4 linked regions of the Homo sapiens genome follow. The protein of the gene in region 4 interacts with the protein of the main gene of each other region in a pairwise test. Each region holds a gene or a part of one and is shown on either strand. Other genes may lie near its edges.

Evidence for each region. The genes of interacting proteins can lie anywhere in the genome.
Region 1: the proteins of LCP2 (region 4) and LMNA interact in a two-hybrid assay, tested with the Homo sapiens proteins (one large-scale study listed by BioGRID).
Region 2: the proteins of LCP2 (region 4) and NCK2 interact in binary tests that used the Homo sapiens proteins (3 or more experiments, as listed by UniProt).
Region 3: the proteins of LCP2 (region 4) and FXR2 interact in binary tests that used the Homo sapiens proteins (3 or more experiments, as listed by UniProt).

What each region holds. Positions count from the first base shown.
Region 1 is NC_000001.11:156,131,711-156,135,210, reverse strand, and holds part of LMNA (lamin), read right to left. Parts: intron 809-3,500; coding exon 683-808; intron 407-682; coding exon 236-406; intron 25-235; coding exon 1-24.
Region 2 is NC_000002.12:105,880,912-105,884,411, reverse strand, and holds part of NCK2 (cytoplasmic protein NCK2), read right to left. Parts: intron 3,085-3,500; coding exon 2,363-3,084; intron 1-2,362. UniProt on the Homo sapiens protein: Adapter protein which associates with tyrosine-phosphorylated growth factor receptors or their cellular substrates. Maintains low levels of EIF2S1 phosphorylation by promoting its dephosphorylation by PP1.
Region 3 is NC_000017.11:7,608,398-7,611,897, reverse strand, and holds part of FXR2 (RNA-binding protein FXR2), read left to right. Parts: intron 1-624; exon of another isoform or gene 625-717; intron 718-3,500. UniProt on the Homo sapiens protein: mRNA-binding protein that acts as a regulator of mRNAs translation and/or stability, and which is required for adult hippocampal neurogenesis. Specifically binds to AU-rich elements (AREs) in the 3'-UTR of target mRNAs.
Region 4 is NC_000005.10:170,290,160-170,295,520, forward strand, and holds part of LCP2 (lymphocyte cytosolic protein 2), read right to left. Parts: intron 3,214-5,361; coding exon 3,151-3,213; intron 1-3,150. UniProt on the Homo sapiens protein: Adapter protein primarily involved in signaling pathways within T-cells, as well as other immune cells such as platelets, mast cells, and natural killer (NK) cells.

The sequences.
Region 1 (3,500 bases), on a different chromosome or scaffold from region 4:
AGCAGACTGCCTGGCATTGTCCAGCTGGAGGGGAGGACAAAGGGTTAGGACTGTGGTGACTGGGAGGGGTGGAGGCACAGGCCTGAGTTGGGCATCACTGCTACAGCCCCAGGTCCTGGGCCACCCTGAGCTCCCTGCCACCATCTGCCTGATCCCCAGAAGGCATAGCCCAGCGTGGGTAAGGGTAGGGCTGCCAAGGGCAGAGGCAGTGAGGGAACCAATCGAGAGCAAGCACCTTGGCAGAATAAGTCTTCTCCAGCTCCTTCTTATACTGCTCCACCTGGTCCTCATGCTGGGCCCGCAGTTCCTGCAGCGCATCCGCCAGCCGGCTCTCAAACTCACGCTGCTTCCCATTGTCAATCTCCACCAGTCGGGTCTCATGACGGCGCTTGGTCTCACGCAGCTCCTGGAAGGGTTGGAGGAAGGACACAGAAACCAAAATCAGAATTAGTTCCTGGGAGGCCAAGACCCAGGGGCGGGGCTCCCTGCCCAGCCCTACTCCATGAGCCACTACCAGCCCCACTTTAACCTGGGAGCTGAGTGCTGGCCACCCCCAACTCCCTGTCCACTAGGGCAAGGGACTCAGGAAGGCGAGCTCTGCACACAGCTGGTCCCCCCTAGCCCAGCCCAAGTCTGTCATCACCCAGCCCCAGCCCTCTGGCTTGCAAAGCACAGTCCCCACCTCACTGTAGATGTTCTTCTGGAAGTCCAGTTCCTCCTTCATGGTCTGCAGCCTGTTCTCAGCATCCACCCGCCGCAGCATCTCATCCTGAAGTTGCTTCTTGGCCTCACCTAGGGCTGCCTCAAGCTGTGAGGAAGCAGGCAGAGATGAGGAAAAGGGGTCACAGAACACAAGAACTGGAAGGAAGCTGAGAGGTGGGCTGCTGCCTGTGCACCCCTTCACACATGTGGAAACAGGTCCAGGGAAGGAGGGCCTTGGATGCCTGCAGGGGTCAGGACATCTACTCACTCACTCTTGGTAGGTACTGTGCTAAGAGAGAAAATATATATCTAATACAAAAAAGTAGCCAGGCATGATGGTGGCACACGCCTGTAGTCCCAGCTACTCAGGAGGCTGAGGCACAAGAATCGCTTGAATCCAGGAGGTGGAGGTTGCAGTGAGCCGAGATCGCACTACTGCACTCCAGCCTGGGTGACACAGCTAGACTCTGTCTCAAAAAGAAAAGATATATGCCCCCCAGCCACAGGACTCCCTTCTCTGGCACAACATAGCAACTGCTATAAAGGAGGTATGTGCAAAGTACTGAGGGGACATGAGAGAAGGAACCAAAGTATGCCTGGGGTACTTTTGGGGGGCTCTGGGAAGGCCTCCAAGAGGCTAAGACCCAAGGGACAGGCTAGCGGGGCCTACAGAGAGCTACTGTCATGATTTCAAGGGCAGAAACAAGCATGTACAGGCACAGAGGTATGAAGGCATGTGTGTTCTGGGGTCTTTGGAAAGATCAGTACTGCTGAAGCCTGAAGTACGGGGTGGGAAGGGATGGGAGAGGTGGCTGGGTCAGTAGGCAGGGGCTGGCTCATGAAGAGATGCCCTTATCTGCCATGAAAAGAACCTGAGGATGTTTGAGCAGGGGAGCACCACGCTTAGATTTTCTTTTTTTTATTTTTATTTTTTTTTTGAGATGGAGTCTCGCTCTGTCACCTAGGCTGGAGAGCAGTGGCGCGATCTCAGCTCACTGCAAGCTCTGCCTCCCAGGTTCATGCCATTCTCCTGCCTCAGTCTCCCGAGTAGCTGGGACTACAGACATGGGCCACCACACCCAGCTAATTTTTGTATCTTTAGTAGAGACAGGGTTTCACCATGTTGGCCAGGATAGTCTCGATCTCCTGACCTCGTGATCTGCCCACCTTGGCCTCCCAAAATGCTGGGATTACAGGCGTGAGCCACCACACCCAGCCGTATGCTTAGATTTTCATTTAAGAAAGCACAGGCTGGGCTAAGTGTGGTGGCTCATGCCTATAATCCCAGCACATTGGGAGGCTGAGGCAGGAAGATCTCTTGCAGCCAGGAGTTCAAGACCAGCCTCAACAACATAGAGAGAACACGTCTTGCCAGGCGTGGTGGCTCACGCCTGTAATCCCAGCACTTTGGGAGGCTGAGGCGGGCAGAACACCTAAGGTCAGGAGTTCAAGACCAGCCTGACCAACATGGTGAAACCCTGTCTCTACTAAAAATCCAAAAAGTAGCTGGGCATGGTGGTGGGCACCTGTAATCCCAGCTACTCGGGAGGCTGAGGCAGGAGAATTGCTTGAACCTGGGAGACAGAGGTTGCAGTGAGCTGAGATCGTGCCATTGCACTCCAGCCTGGGTGACAGAGTAAGACTCCATCTCAAAAAAAAAAAAAAAAAAAAGAGAGAGAGAGAGAGGAGAACATGGCTCTATTTATAAAGAAAAACAGGGCAAGGAAGCACAGGCTGATCAGTGCATCCAGGAAGGGCTGGGGGAAGGGTACAACTGGGAGGCTGGAGACCAGACCCAGGAGGAAGGTGGCCCAGCCTTGGTTCGGTGGTCAACCTGCTGGCTTCTCCAGGTCTTTCCCTGGTATACTATGATGGTAGGGCCTGGGAAGGGAAAGAACCCAGGATGGAAGCTTGGCCACTGACTCTAATCCTGGCCCCACTATGAACAGATGAGACTGTGAAATTAGGAATAAACTGCTTCTTTGATTCTTAGCTTTTATTTATTATTTATTTTTATTTTTATTTATTTATGTTTTTTTGAGATGGAGTCTCGCTCTGTTGCCTAGGCTGGAGTGCTGTGACCCGATCTTGGCTCACTGCAACCTCCACCTCCCGGGTTCAAGCGATTCTCCTGCCTCAGCCTCCCAAGTAGCTGGGATTACAGGTGGCTGCCACCATGCCTAGCTAATTTTTGTATTTGTAGTAGAGATGGGGTTTCACCATGTTGGCCAGGCTAGTCTCGAACTCCTAACCTCAGGTGATCTGCCCACCTCTGCCTCCCAAAGTGCTAGGATTACAGGCATGAGCCACCGTGCCTGGCTATTTTTTATTTTTTTTGAGATAGAGTTTTGCTCTTGTTGCCCAGGCTGGAGTGCAATGGTGCAATCTCAGTTCACCACAACCTCTGATCCTGGGTTCAAATGATTTTCCTGCCTCAGCCTCACAAGTAGTTGTTGGGACTACAGGTGTGTGCCACCACGCCTGGCTAATTTTGTATTTTTAGTAGAGACGGAGTTTAACCATGTTGGTCAGACTGGTCTCAAACTCCTGACCTCAAATGATCCACCCGCCTTGGCCTCCCAAAGTGCTGGGATTATAGGCGTGAGCCACTGCACCCAGCCCAATTCCTAGCTTTTAACATGATAAATTGGAGAAGAGTGTTTTGAAAGTAAAGGCCACTCTATATACACAAAGCATTATTAACACATGTCCCATATGTAATTAGCCATCCGCTTCTGATGGCCTCAATAAATGATCAACTCCAGTCCTCCTTTTCCCCAGAGAAATCACAAGGGCCT
Region 2 (3,500 bases), on a different chromosome or scaffold from region 4:
CTGAACCCCTCAGAAACCTTTCCATCCTGGCATGCTGCGAAGGAATTATGTCAGATCATGAACCTAAGGGCTCTTGGTGGCCTAGTGGTGGCTGCGAAAGCCAGCTCTAACCTGAGAAATGCCAAAATGAGCAGGAAAACACATGGGGACGGGGGGAGGCAGTGGATGGTGGGAAAAAAACAAGCAAAGGACTTGTCCACTTGTCCACCAGGACAGGTCCCTGGTAGTCACAGATGACAGCTGAGAACGCCTTGGTTATGAACAGGAAATACAGCAAACCTGGCATGGTTCTGCTGTCAGGAGAAAAGAAGCCACACACACACCTCAGGGCTCTTGCAGAATCCCCATGGAACAAGGCATGCACACTAACAGCTGAAAATGGCCCGTGTCACGGCAAGATCCATCAGGACAAGCTGCCCTGCACAGCATCAGGCCACGTGGAACCTCAGACAAAGACGGTGCTGCTATGTGTGCAGAGCCGATGCAAGTCCCAGTAAAGCTCTTTCCGCCCTATATTCCTAGAATCATATATGTTGTTCCTTGACTTTCTAAGTTAGGAGAGAATGCAAAAAACCCTGAAAGGCCCCCATTAAAAAACTGTTAAAAGGAAATACAAACAATTCGTGCTTTAGTTCTTTAGAAAAAGTTAGCTCATTCTCTAACAATATAAGACAACTGAGACAGTGGGGTGCAGAGTTCTGAGATGAAACCCAGACAATGCATGCATCCCTCCTTATCCAAAGGGACTTGGTCCCTGAATTCAGACAGCAATGACCACCTGTGCATGTTCCACAGAAAAGCCATAGGTCCTCCCTAAGGCCAGCAACCCCGGAGAACACCTTTTTCATCTACCCTCTAAAGTCTTTCCTCTTTTCCCCAAATCTTAGGCAGAAAGAATAATGACTGGGACCAATGTCTCCACACTGCAGGACTTCCTTCTGAGAAGTCTCCTCAAACTCAAAAAATTTTAAGCCAAGATCATATTTTGTGCATTATACTTAGCCCTTAAGGACTCTGGACCAAGCACTTAATATTGTAATTGGTTTTCCAGCGCTTTCTCTAAGTTTCTGCTCGATTGAGTTAAAAGCGCTGCTGTCCTTAATTTGCTTAAGGCTTCAAACACGATCTAAAAGAAGTGGTGCACAGAGCTCTCGTCATGTGAGAACAATTCAATGTGATGTCTTGCCAGGAATGATAAACTCTGGTGACTTGATAAATCTCAGAGTTCAGATTTCAGATGAAGTTAGCTTTCAGCCTGGCATTCCCGTCCAAGCACATGTAAGGCTCCGCAAAATTGATGACACCATAAAGGAGTCCAGTTTCCACCACCACGATGCTCCGTCCTCAAAGAGAGCACATCCCAGTCGCCTCTCTCTGGAGGGCTTTGAATGCCTCTCTGATCAGTCAACAGGACCCTTGAATGAGCACTTATTCATTGTGCCAGTAATCTTTTCAGAGGACAGCAGTGGCAGCAGGTAGTACATACTTACTAGTCTTATAGCGTGCATTTAAAAATGAAATTGAAGCCTCCTAGAACCAATACAATTCAAATACATTAAACTCTATCTCCTAAATGCTTGTTTTGGAAGTCTCTCGATTGTAGAAGGTGTATTCGGAAAGACGTTTGCAAAACTGGTCGAGTATTTCCTTCACACACGAAAAGCCTGCCTTCTGGGATGCAGGCTTGACCCCATGCCTGAAACTCACCGCCCCCAGCCTGCCCACCGCTGAACTGGGTCTGCTGCCCCAGTCGAGTGGCCTCATATCTCCGACTCACTGCACACAAACAAAACTCATCTCTCCCAAGAACCCCTGTTTTCTTTTCAATTTATCTCGTAAGTGCTTTAAAAGCTTTTGAGAGATGAACTCAGTGGCGCTGCCTGCCGTGGCAATGACCTTGGGATTATATGGTTTACAAAGAGAAAGCAAGCAAACAACAAAAGGAGGTGTCAGAAACCAGCCACCAGTCTTGCAAAGAATGCTTTCTCTGGGACACAGACCGAATAGAAACAAAGTAAATCACTCGGGCCTTCTACGTACACAGAATGGGCAACCAGGAGAGAAAATGATGTTTGAGCCTGTGAAATACAAGAGGGGGAATCTTGGGAGAGAAGCAGAACCACCTCTGTGAGCTAAAAACATCTTTTTAGTTAATCTCCCACCTCCAGAAATGGACACCCACTATCCCCAAAACAGATGCAAGTAAATCACGGAGTAGCAAACATTATACTAAATTGCATTCATCTGCGTCTCCCGCTCTTTCTAGTGTACTCACACAATGTGAAAAGGGCGCGGCACACAGACCCACCGCGCAAGGCGCATTTACTGCCTGCAGCCGGAGCTGTGGGCGCAGCGCACTTACCGAGGACTCGCTGTCCCTAATGAGGAAGTCGCCCTCCACGCCCCGCTCGTTGAGGGCGCACTCGGCCTGGTGCCGCGTCACGTTCCCGTAGTACCACTCTCTGCCCGCGAAGCGCCCGCTGGACGAGGGCCCGGTGTAGCTTATCTGTGGGGCGTGCGCAGGGTGCAGGGCAGGCCCGTCACTGAGGACCACCACGTAGTTTTTGGGGACGAGGCCCACCTGGCCCCGGGCATTTTTGCATTTCCACCACTCGGGGTCGTTCTCCGGCTTCTCAATCACCTCCATGGTCTCCCCCTTCTCGAAGTTGAGCTCCTCCTCGGTGACTGAGCTGAAGGGGTACAGCGTCTGGACCACATGCAGCACGCGGGAGCCCTGGCCATTGCTCAGCGAGGCGCCCTTGCGCAGGCTCAGGAAGCTTGGGGACTCCGCAGCCGCCTCGTCCACCTCCTCCAAGACGTAGTTGGAGGGGAACCAGCCGATCTGCCCGTTGTAGCTGCCCCGCCACCAACCGTCGCTGCACTTCTCCATGACGGTGACGCGCGACCCCTTCACCAGGGACAACTCATCCTCCCGCTCGGCCACATAGGCGAACTTGACGAAGGCCGGGATGTTGAGGTCGTAGATGCGGTCGGCGCCGCTGCCATTGGCGGGGTACTCGGCGTCCGTGCTGGGCGTGGGGGACGCATCCCGCGCGCTGGTCTTCCTGCGCGTCTTGCCGAGGCCTGTGGAGACACAGCAAGGCTCAGTGGCGCAGGGCACTTGGGCACCACCACACTCCCTAGCCTACCGGGATTTCCACGCAGTTTCTCTGGCGGTTAAATACAAGGGGACGACACATGGACAGTGCTTACAAACTGTAATTACCATGAGAAAAATACGGTTGCTGGCAGCTGCCTCCTGTAGTTGCGAAGTTACTTAAAGTTGAGAATTAAATTGATCTATTTTATCCATAAAAACATGTCACAGGGCCAGCACAGTGGCTCACGCCTGGAATCCCAGCCTTTGAGAGGCCCAGGCGGGAAGATTGCTTGAGGCCAGGAGTCTGAGACCAGCCTAAGCAACATAGCGAGACCGTGTCTGCAAAAAAAAAAAAAAAAAAAAAAAAAAAAAAAATTAGCCACCTGTGGTGCACATCTGT
Region 3 (3,500 bases), on a different chromosome or scaffold from region 4:
ACCACAAATCCCTAAATTCAGGCTAATCTTCCACTCTCAGTACCCTACAGATACTTATCCGTTTTGACCTTGCTGCTGATTTAATATTCATGACTCAGCAAACTTGGGATGGGTCAGGGAGTATTTACACTGCTTCTGGAATTGTACATTTGGGAAGGTCCCTTTCTCCTCTCTCAGAATTGGGCCCTGTTGTCAGTTTTCTTTTCTTTCTTTTCCTTTTTTTTTTATTTGAGACAGGGTCTCCCTCTGTCATCCAGGCTGGAGTACAGTGGCGTGATGTCGTCTCACTGCAGCCTCCGCCTCCCAGGTTCAAGTGATTCTTGTGCCTCAGCCTCCCGAGTAGCTGGGATTACAGGTGTGCAACACCATGCCTGGCTAATTTTTGTATTTTCAGTAGAGACGGGGTTTCGCTATGTTGGCCAGGCTGGTTTCTGACTCCTGACTTCAAGAGATTCGCCCGCCTTGGCCTCCCAAGGTGCTGGGATTACAGGCGTGAGCCACCACGCCCTCCCGTCAGTTTTCTTAAAGGATAAAATATTAGATCTGGGATCTAAGTTATTTTGTAGCTATCTGAAAATTAAGTTTGTCAGAATTTACTCTTTTTTTCCGTCCTTTTTTTTTTCATGTCAGACTGGCATCCGTAACAAGGGTTGAGGGAGGCATACCTCACCGTGAGCTTGAAACCGCAGTCATCATGCTTAAGACGTACAAAATGGCTTAAGACGTACAAAATGGCCTAATGTATTTTATTCTTTAAGTTGTACTCTCCCAAATGAAGTATTCACCGTCCAGGGCGCAATCTTCCTACTCCAAACCTCATCTGGATATCCTAATCCCCATTCCTTTCTTAATCAACATGGCATCCTCAGCTTCAGTACTTGGTTTTTACTCAGACTGTTCCTGCTCTTCTCCTAGAACCCCCTCCTTTGCTTTGGGAGTCTAGAACTAGAAGACGGTGAAGGTGGGGACCAATTTTATATCTTCTAATTTGAGGAAACCAAAGTACCTAGGAACCTGGGGCTCTCTCTTCCTCTGCTGGCTTGGTGCCAGGCTCCAGAAGCCAAAGCCAGGTGATGCTATGGCCACTGAATCAAGTTATCCTCTGGATCTAGGTGGCTCCCTAATACATTCCACCCACCTGCTCTTGCCTTCACCTGCTTATTTTCACAATGAGCGTAGACTGAGCAGAACTTGGGGCTCACTTCCACCACAGATACCCTTGGAGAAAAAAACTAGTATGGGATGAATGGGTGGAATTTAGGAGCAGAGACAGGATTGGAATATGAAGTTGGGGACAGAGCTAGTTTTGGAGACTAATTGAAGGAAAAAGACCCTGGAAATATAAGGGTTGAGTGAGATTTGGTTGAACTGCTGAGTAATGTGAGAGATTACTCCATTCTGAGCTTTGCATTTCTGCCTTGGAAGTCATGGTAGCTGGGAAAACTAGGGTAATATTGCTGCTCACCCTGGGGCCAAGCCTAACATGGTGGAGGAGAATTGGATTACACCATAGGCATAGCCGATTTGAATATATCTAGGAGTAGAAATCTCTCCACAAAAGCAGTAAATTAGTGATTCTCATCTCTGTCTCTTTTCCACTTCTTTCTGTCAGTGTAACTCCTGCCTTGATAAACTACTTCTAAGGCTTGGAGTAGACATTTTGGGTAAAGAACTGGATAAAGTCAGCGGAAGAGGCTGGTTGGAATAATTCTAGAAATCCAGACGACCCTGCAGCCTCTGCCTCCTGGCTTCAAGTGATTCTCATATCTCAGCCACCCTGAATAGCTGAGGTTACAGCCATGTGCCACCACGCCTGGCTAATTTATATATATGTGTGTGTGTGTGTGTGTATATATATACATACATGTATACATATACATGTATATATATATGTATACATATACATGTATATATATATGTATACATATACATGTATATATATGTATACATATACATGTATATATATACATATACATGTATATATACATATATATGTATGTGTATATATATGTATATGTATACATATATATATAGTAGCAATGGGGTTTTGCCATATTGGCCAGACTGGTCTCGAACTCCTGGCCTCAGCTGATCTACCGACCTCGGCCTCCAAGTGTTGGGATTACAGGGAAAAGAAGAGGGAATGGATAAAATATTAGTGGTTGTGGGAGTGGGGAGGACACTTGAGCAGGAGCTAAGGGAAGAACCCAAAAGGGAAGAGAGACCCAGGCAAGTAGAAGTAAAAGTGCCTCAGAAGACTTGAATGGAGAACAGTAGGAGTTGGCATTAAACCTGAATGAACATGCTCATAACTCAGGTTCTTTTTGAAAAAGGAAAAAAATCTGAATGAAGAGTAGAAAAAACATTTCTGGAGAAGAGAATGTCAGAGAAAGAAAAAGCATGGGTAAAAAAGAGGCCAGGAAGTACCAGTAGTAATTAAAGCCTTGGGCAGTAGTAAGGCTCTAAGAAAGAACATTCAGTCAAGAATGATCTTGACTGACTGCAGCCTCTATAGCAAGACATATCCCTAAAGACGAGAAAGGTGGCTTGTATGAAGAGTGAAATGCAGGCTTAGATTTTCCCATCGTAAGGAAATAGCAATCTGGTAAGTGTTTGTGATTGATTAGTTCTATGAGGTGGGAGCTGTGCATTTGCCAAGGGCATTTTTGGTGTTTTCTCTCCTAAGCTTAGCCTTTGTCCCTAGCAGCAAAGCTCATGAATAGTTCTTGTGTATTAGCCTTTTGAAACCTCTAATTCTTTTATTTTTGTTTATTTATTTTGTTTTTTGAGTCACGGTCTTGCTGTGTTGCCCAAGCTATGGAGTGCAGTGGTGCAATCACAGCTCATCACAGCCTCGACCTCCCTGGCTCAAGTGATCCTCCCACCTTAGCCTCCTAAATAGCTGGGACTACAGGCACAAGCCATCATACCCTGCTAATTTATAAATTTTTTGCAGAGATGAGGTTTCCCTGTGTTGTATGGGCTCTCTAATTTTTTTAAAAAACATCTTTATTGAGCTGAAATTGACATACAACAAAGTAGACATATTTAAAGTGTGCCATTTGTTAAGTTTTGACATGTATGTAACTGAGTCCATCACTGCAATCAAAGGAATGAACATTTCTGTCACTCCCAAAAGTCCTCCATCAACTACCAATCTTCTGTCATTATACATTAAATTGCCCTTCCTGATTTTCGATAGAAATGAAAAGGCAGTTCAATTCAGCTAAGAAAGGATAGTCTTGTCTTTTCTTTTCTTCTTTTCTTCTTTTTTTTTTTTTGAGGCAGAGTTTGCCCTGTTGTCCAGGCTGCAGTGCGATGGCATGATCTTGACTGACTGCAGTCTCTAACTCCTGGCTTCAAGTGATTTTCATGCCTCAGCCACCCTGAATAACTGAGGTTACAGCCATGTGCCACCACGCCTGGCTAATTTATATATTATTATTATTATTATTTTTTTTTTTTTTTAGTAGCAATGGGATTTTGCCATATTGGCCAGA
Region 4 (5,361 bases):
GGTTATTTGCATGATGATTTTGGAGTTAAGATTTATGGCTTTGTGGGAGTATGATTATATGCTGTGGGTGTTGAGAAGAGGGGTACAGAAAGAGGAAAGCCACAAACTGGGCCCTGGTGGGAGAGGCAATGTGGCAGACATGGCTGCTTGCCTACCCAATACCCACTCTCCCTTTGTTTTCCTACTGACAGGTCCTGGGTTTCATTCAGGGCAGTAAATGTGCTTGTTCAAAATATTTAACTCTCCAGGCTCCCTTGCAGATGGTGGAGGTCACATGACTCTGTTGTGGACAGTAAGATATAACCAAAGTCTGCTGGATGGAGCTTCTGGAAAAGTTACTACTTCCCTGGAAAAAAGGGAGCATGCATTTACCATTCACCATACACCTTCTCCTCTTTGCCTTTCTCCCCGTCTCCCTGCCTGCCATGGAGATATGATGCCTAAAGGTGGAGTAGCCAACTGACAACTGTTAGGACAGAAGCCACAGGCTTTTTCCATCGGTTAGATGAAGCCTGGGTTCTTGATGTCTTCTTTCACCATCCCCTGGCACCCGCCTATACATTTATTACTTGAAACAGACTGACCTTTATTTGGTTAGGCCACTGTGGTCAGGTTTCTGCAACATGGGGTCACATGCCTTCCCAACTGACACAAGTCTCAAGCTCCTTTTCTCTTCTTTTTATAACTTCTAGAAGCATAGCTTCTACCAGATAAGGATCTAACCTTTTCAGTGGAAAACAAAAATGGCAAAGAAGTAAAGAAAGAAGAGAGAGAAAGAAGAAAGAAAGAAAGAAAAGAAAGAAAGAAAGAAAGAAAGAAAGAAAGAAAGAAAGAAAGAAAGAGAGAAAGAAAGAGAGAAAGAAAGAGAGAAAGAAAGAGAGATGGAGAGAGGGAAGGAAGGAAGAAAAGAAAGAGAGGGAGAAGAAAGAAGACAGGGAAGGAAAGGGAAGGGAAAAGAGGGAAGGGGAGAGGGGAGGACAAGGGAAGGGGAGAGGGGAGGACAAGGGAAGGGAGGAAGGAAGAAAGGAAGGAAAGAAGGCAGGAAGGAAGGAAGGAAGGAAGGAAGAAAGGAAGGAAGGAAGGAAGGAAAAATAACTAGGGCCTTTCACTTTTGCCTTCAATAGCAGAGTGGCCCTGGATATTACAGAGCTGGAAAGGGTGATAGATTAGTAATTAGAGCTTAGATCAAGCGTCCCAAATTGTACCCAGTGCACTAGGGGTGGAGGGTGGGTTTCAGCAGAAGCTGCCTTTACATCCCCCAGTTGCAGGGACAGGCACTGGATTCTTCTTCTTTTCTTCTGGTTCCTATCACCCTACTTTGCACTTCCTCCTCTTCATACAATGAACAGAATGTGCCACATTGTCTGAAGGACTGATAGAGGACTGATTGGAGCAGAGGAAACATAGCTGCCTAGATACCATCTCTCAAACAACCCTGTTCTACCAGGCCTGACACTCGCACCAGGACTGTTGTGGGGAATTACAGAGCCGGGAGGGGCCATCACCCACTATGACCCAGTCCAATGTGCTCAGTCAACAGGGTAGGAAGCAAGGCAGGCTCAGAGAGGGCAAGTACTTGCTCAGGGTGACCCAGGCAACAGGGCGTCGTAGGCACCATCCTCAAAGATGTCTTCCTCCCTTTCCATTCAACTGTGATAAGTCTCTGTTCTCAGTGCTAATAGCACCAGAATGAAATATTTGGGTTTAGCAGTAATTTGCAAGAATGGCACTAAAGCTCCAGGAATTCTACTGACTCAAATCTCAATACAAATAAATAATACTGTTAAAAAGTCAAATGGTATCAGACTAAATTAAGTGTATGCCTTAGTTCAATTAGTAGGTATGTGACATAGAACAAATCACATCACAGCTCTGCATGTGTTTCCTCATCTGCAAATGAGGTAGTTGGAAGCCTTTCTGAACATACCTTTCTGCTATAAAACAAGTTTCTAGAAGGCAGAAATCACATCTTAGCCATTTCTCTATCCCCACCACCTATAATGCTCTCCAGTATGTAAAAGCAGTTCGGGAAACTGCTTGTCAAGTGAACGAATAGGCGAATGAATGAATGATTTAGGTGGACAGTGAATAAACATGTCTTACATGGCACCTGGAAGCAAAACTCAGACCAATAGGAGCACAGGTTAGTTTCAGCACAAGACTTGAGAGCTGCCTAGAAAGGGGCAGATGACTGTGGGTGGTGGTGAGCTCACCATCACTGAAGGAATTCAAGAAGATGTTGGTAGCAGAGATGTAATATAAGAAATGGATTGGTGTTCTCTGGGGGCAAGCTGGAGCTTGTGATCTCTCTGGTCTCATCCAACTGGCCTGAAGTCTCATGGTCAAGTTCCCTTACTGACAGTGTCTTACAGGGAGACACAACTTAGCTTACTCTATTCACTCTGAATTTAAATTAGGAACATCTACCCCCATGAGACCCTTGAAGTCTTATTTTCAAAGAGTAAAGCAAAGTTCCCAGAAAGGATGGATTGGTGCAGTCAGGGTCTTTCTTAACCCATGGGCAAAGGTGTCATTTCAGGGAAAATGCTCAAACCACCTCCCCGACCACAACCTAGCACCTCTGTCTCCACCATTAGAGCTGCATCCTTTTCCCTTTAATGGCTTAGTCTTTAATACATACCTGCACCTTGGTCTTAGACTTCAAGCTTTTTGAAGTATAATACAGTGGAGACAGCCATATCACATGTGTGCTTGATGCAAAATCAGCTTTATGAATTTGGTAGTGAGAAAGAAGGAAGTAATTGAAACAATGAGGGTGATGCCATCCTTTATTCCACTCATGAGTATGTGCTCCAGAGTGAGAGATTGGAGGTGAGAAGCTTCTGTTCACCCATATGGTCCTTCTTCCCCTTGGGCTTCTCAAAGGATGGATGGCATTTAAATAGATTTTCCAGATTATTTGTTTACTATACTTGGATTCCTCCTTAAGGTGTAAGTGGAAGATCAGAGAGGGGTTCTGGATGATAGGATCCTGAAAGGTAGTGAGAGAGGGGGCCCTACCAAATTTCTGGAAAAAGCAAAGGGATCCTCGGGTGTCCCCAGGGAAAGGGTAGGCCAGTTGGCCCTGCAGCCATGGGGAAAAGTGCCGAACAGTCTTGGTTTCAGTGTGTTGGACTAGCCAGAGCTTACCAAGAAGCGAGCCCCATCGATGTGGTACTTCTTCACTGCCTTCTCACAGTCCTTATAGTTGAGCTGCAAAGAGAAGGGGAAGGTGTTGTTAGTGACGGGCAGTCTCTTACCATTGGTTCCTCTCCCTTGCCTGCCCCAGAAACTTAGCACTTTGCGGTACTTGTGGCTAGCCAGGCTCCCCACTGCCCTCCCTTGGCTAACAGAGGGCCCAGTCCCCACCTCAGCCTCGCTTTCACTACCCCCTTGGGACTGCCTGAAATGGAGAAATTGCCTTGCTCTAAGGCTTCGGGGCCAACCCTTACAGAAAGACTGCCTTCAAGGCATGCAGAGCTCTGCCCTATGCTCCTCAGGAAGGAGAGCTAAAAGAAGAAAAGAAATACCATCCATTGTCTCGATGCCCAGAGACGACCTCGGTGTTTCTTTCCATGCTTTCTTCCTAGCATGTTTCTAAACATAATTGAGGTTATGATTTATATTCAATCTCATTATTCTGACTTTTTTCTCTTAAATTACCTAAAGGGATAATATAAACACTGCCTAGTGTTATGCAAACTCAATTTAAAATAATTTTAATGACCACAACATTATTTAATCATGCCCTTATTGCTGAACATTTAGATTATTTACCAAGCTGCTGTTTCAATAATGATAATAAAAACGGCGAACAATTATCGAAAGCTTTCTGTGTGGCAGGCAGTGTACCAAGTAGTTAAACTAGTCTTCAATCATTTAACCCTCACATTTTGCAGATGGGGAATGAGAGGCACAGACAGCAAGTAACTTGCATGAGGTTCCATGGGTTTTAGGTGACAAGTTTCAGAACAGGCTTTAATGTCTCTTTCAGAAATATTCCCCTTTTAATTACAGCATAACTTATATACAGTAAGTAAAATGAGCAAATGAAAATGCAGCTTCATTTGTTTGCAGTACCTCATCCCAATCAAAATAGAGACAATCATGGATACTATTTTGCGAACTTTTTTCTCCCTCTTTGAGATAAATTGTTTAAGTCAGAACCTCAGAACCGAGTTATATAGGATCCATAGGAACGAGCATTTTTAAGATCTTGGTTATTTTCCTAGACCAATCAGCAATCATATGAGGTGCTAGTTTCAACTTGTCCTCAACAGCATAAATGTTCACATTTGAAGTATCTCTCAACTTGCTGCTTTGGGGTGGAGCATTTGAGGTTAAATGTTTCTCCTTGAGGATCCTAGGTTCTTCTCACAAGGGTGGGCCTCATGGTTTGTGGCAGCCTTCTTTTGGAGCACATTTTAAGCCATATTTTTATCTTATAGCTAGCAAATCCAAAGAATAAATACAATTGTTATGAAATCTTAGCTTGGAAGGGTGGGATGATTATCACACTCAGAAAGCTGACTTAGAAGTTGATATTGAAAGCACATCCCATCTATGGAGCCCTGGTATCCCCTTTATCTACAGGCAGTGGGGGGTAAGTGGTTCTTGGAAGAGTCAACTGCCTTTAATTCATCATTCTCACTGTTATCATTATGAGATAAACCAGATGATTTTGAAGAGTGCTAACTTTGTGTCTAGATCAGCAGAGAGTCCTGCAGACTGGGACCCAGGCATTTGATTCTGCTCCAGCAAGATCTAGGCTTGTGGACCTCAAATCTGTATTTTTAAGGAGCACCCTAGACGATTCCTATGGCATCCAGCATTGGTAGGCACTGGTCCAGAAAAGTTACCTGGATTTGTAGTAAGGAAGACTGAGGCCTCTAGAGGGAAAGAGGCTGGTCTAAGGTCACACAGTGAGCTGGGATACCAGCTGGGACCCCACCTGGGATTAGGACACACAGCTCTGAGCCAGTGCCTCTCCACTGCACGACCCAAGGATGTTCTCCTGCAAGTCAAAAGGAATTGGAGAGATTGAACAAATATGTAACATGGTCTCTGTCCTCAGGAGCTTATATTCCAGACACAGGACGAGGTACCCATGTCAGAGACAAGAAGACGCAAAGTCCCACCAGTCTGCATGGGTGTCCCCAGCTAGGAGCCAGTTAATAGAGAAGGTAAAAGGGCAGAAGGAACACGCATTAGGATCCATTTGTCTGCTGAGTGCCTTGCACACATCATTTGCTTTAATCCTCACAACCAACCCATTGGGTTAGTTACTGTTCATATCTCTATTTCACTGATGAGGAAGTTGAGGCACAGAGAGGCAAAGCAACTACAGGAAAGTCGCCAAGC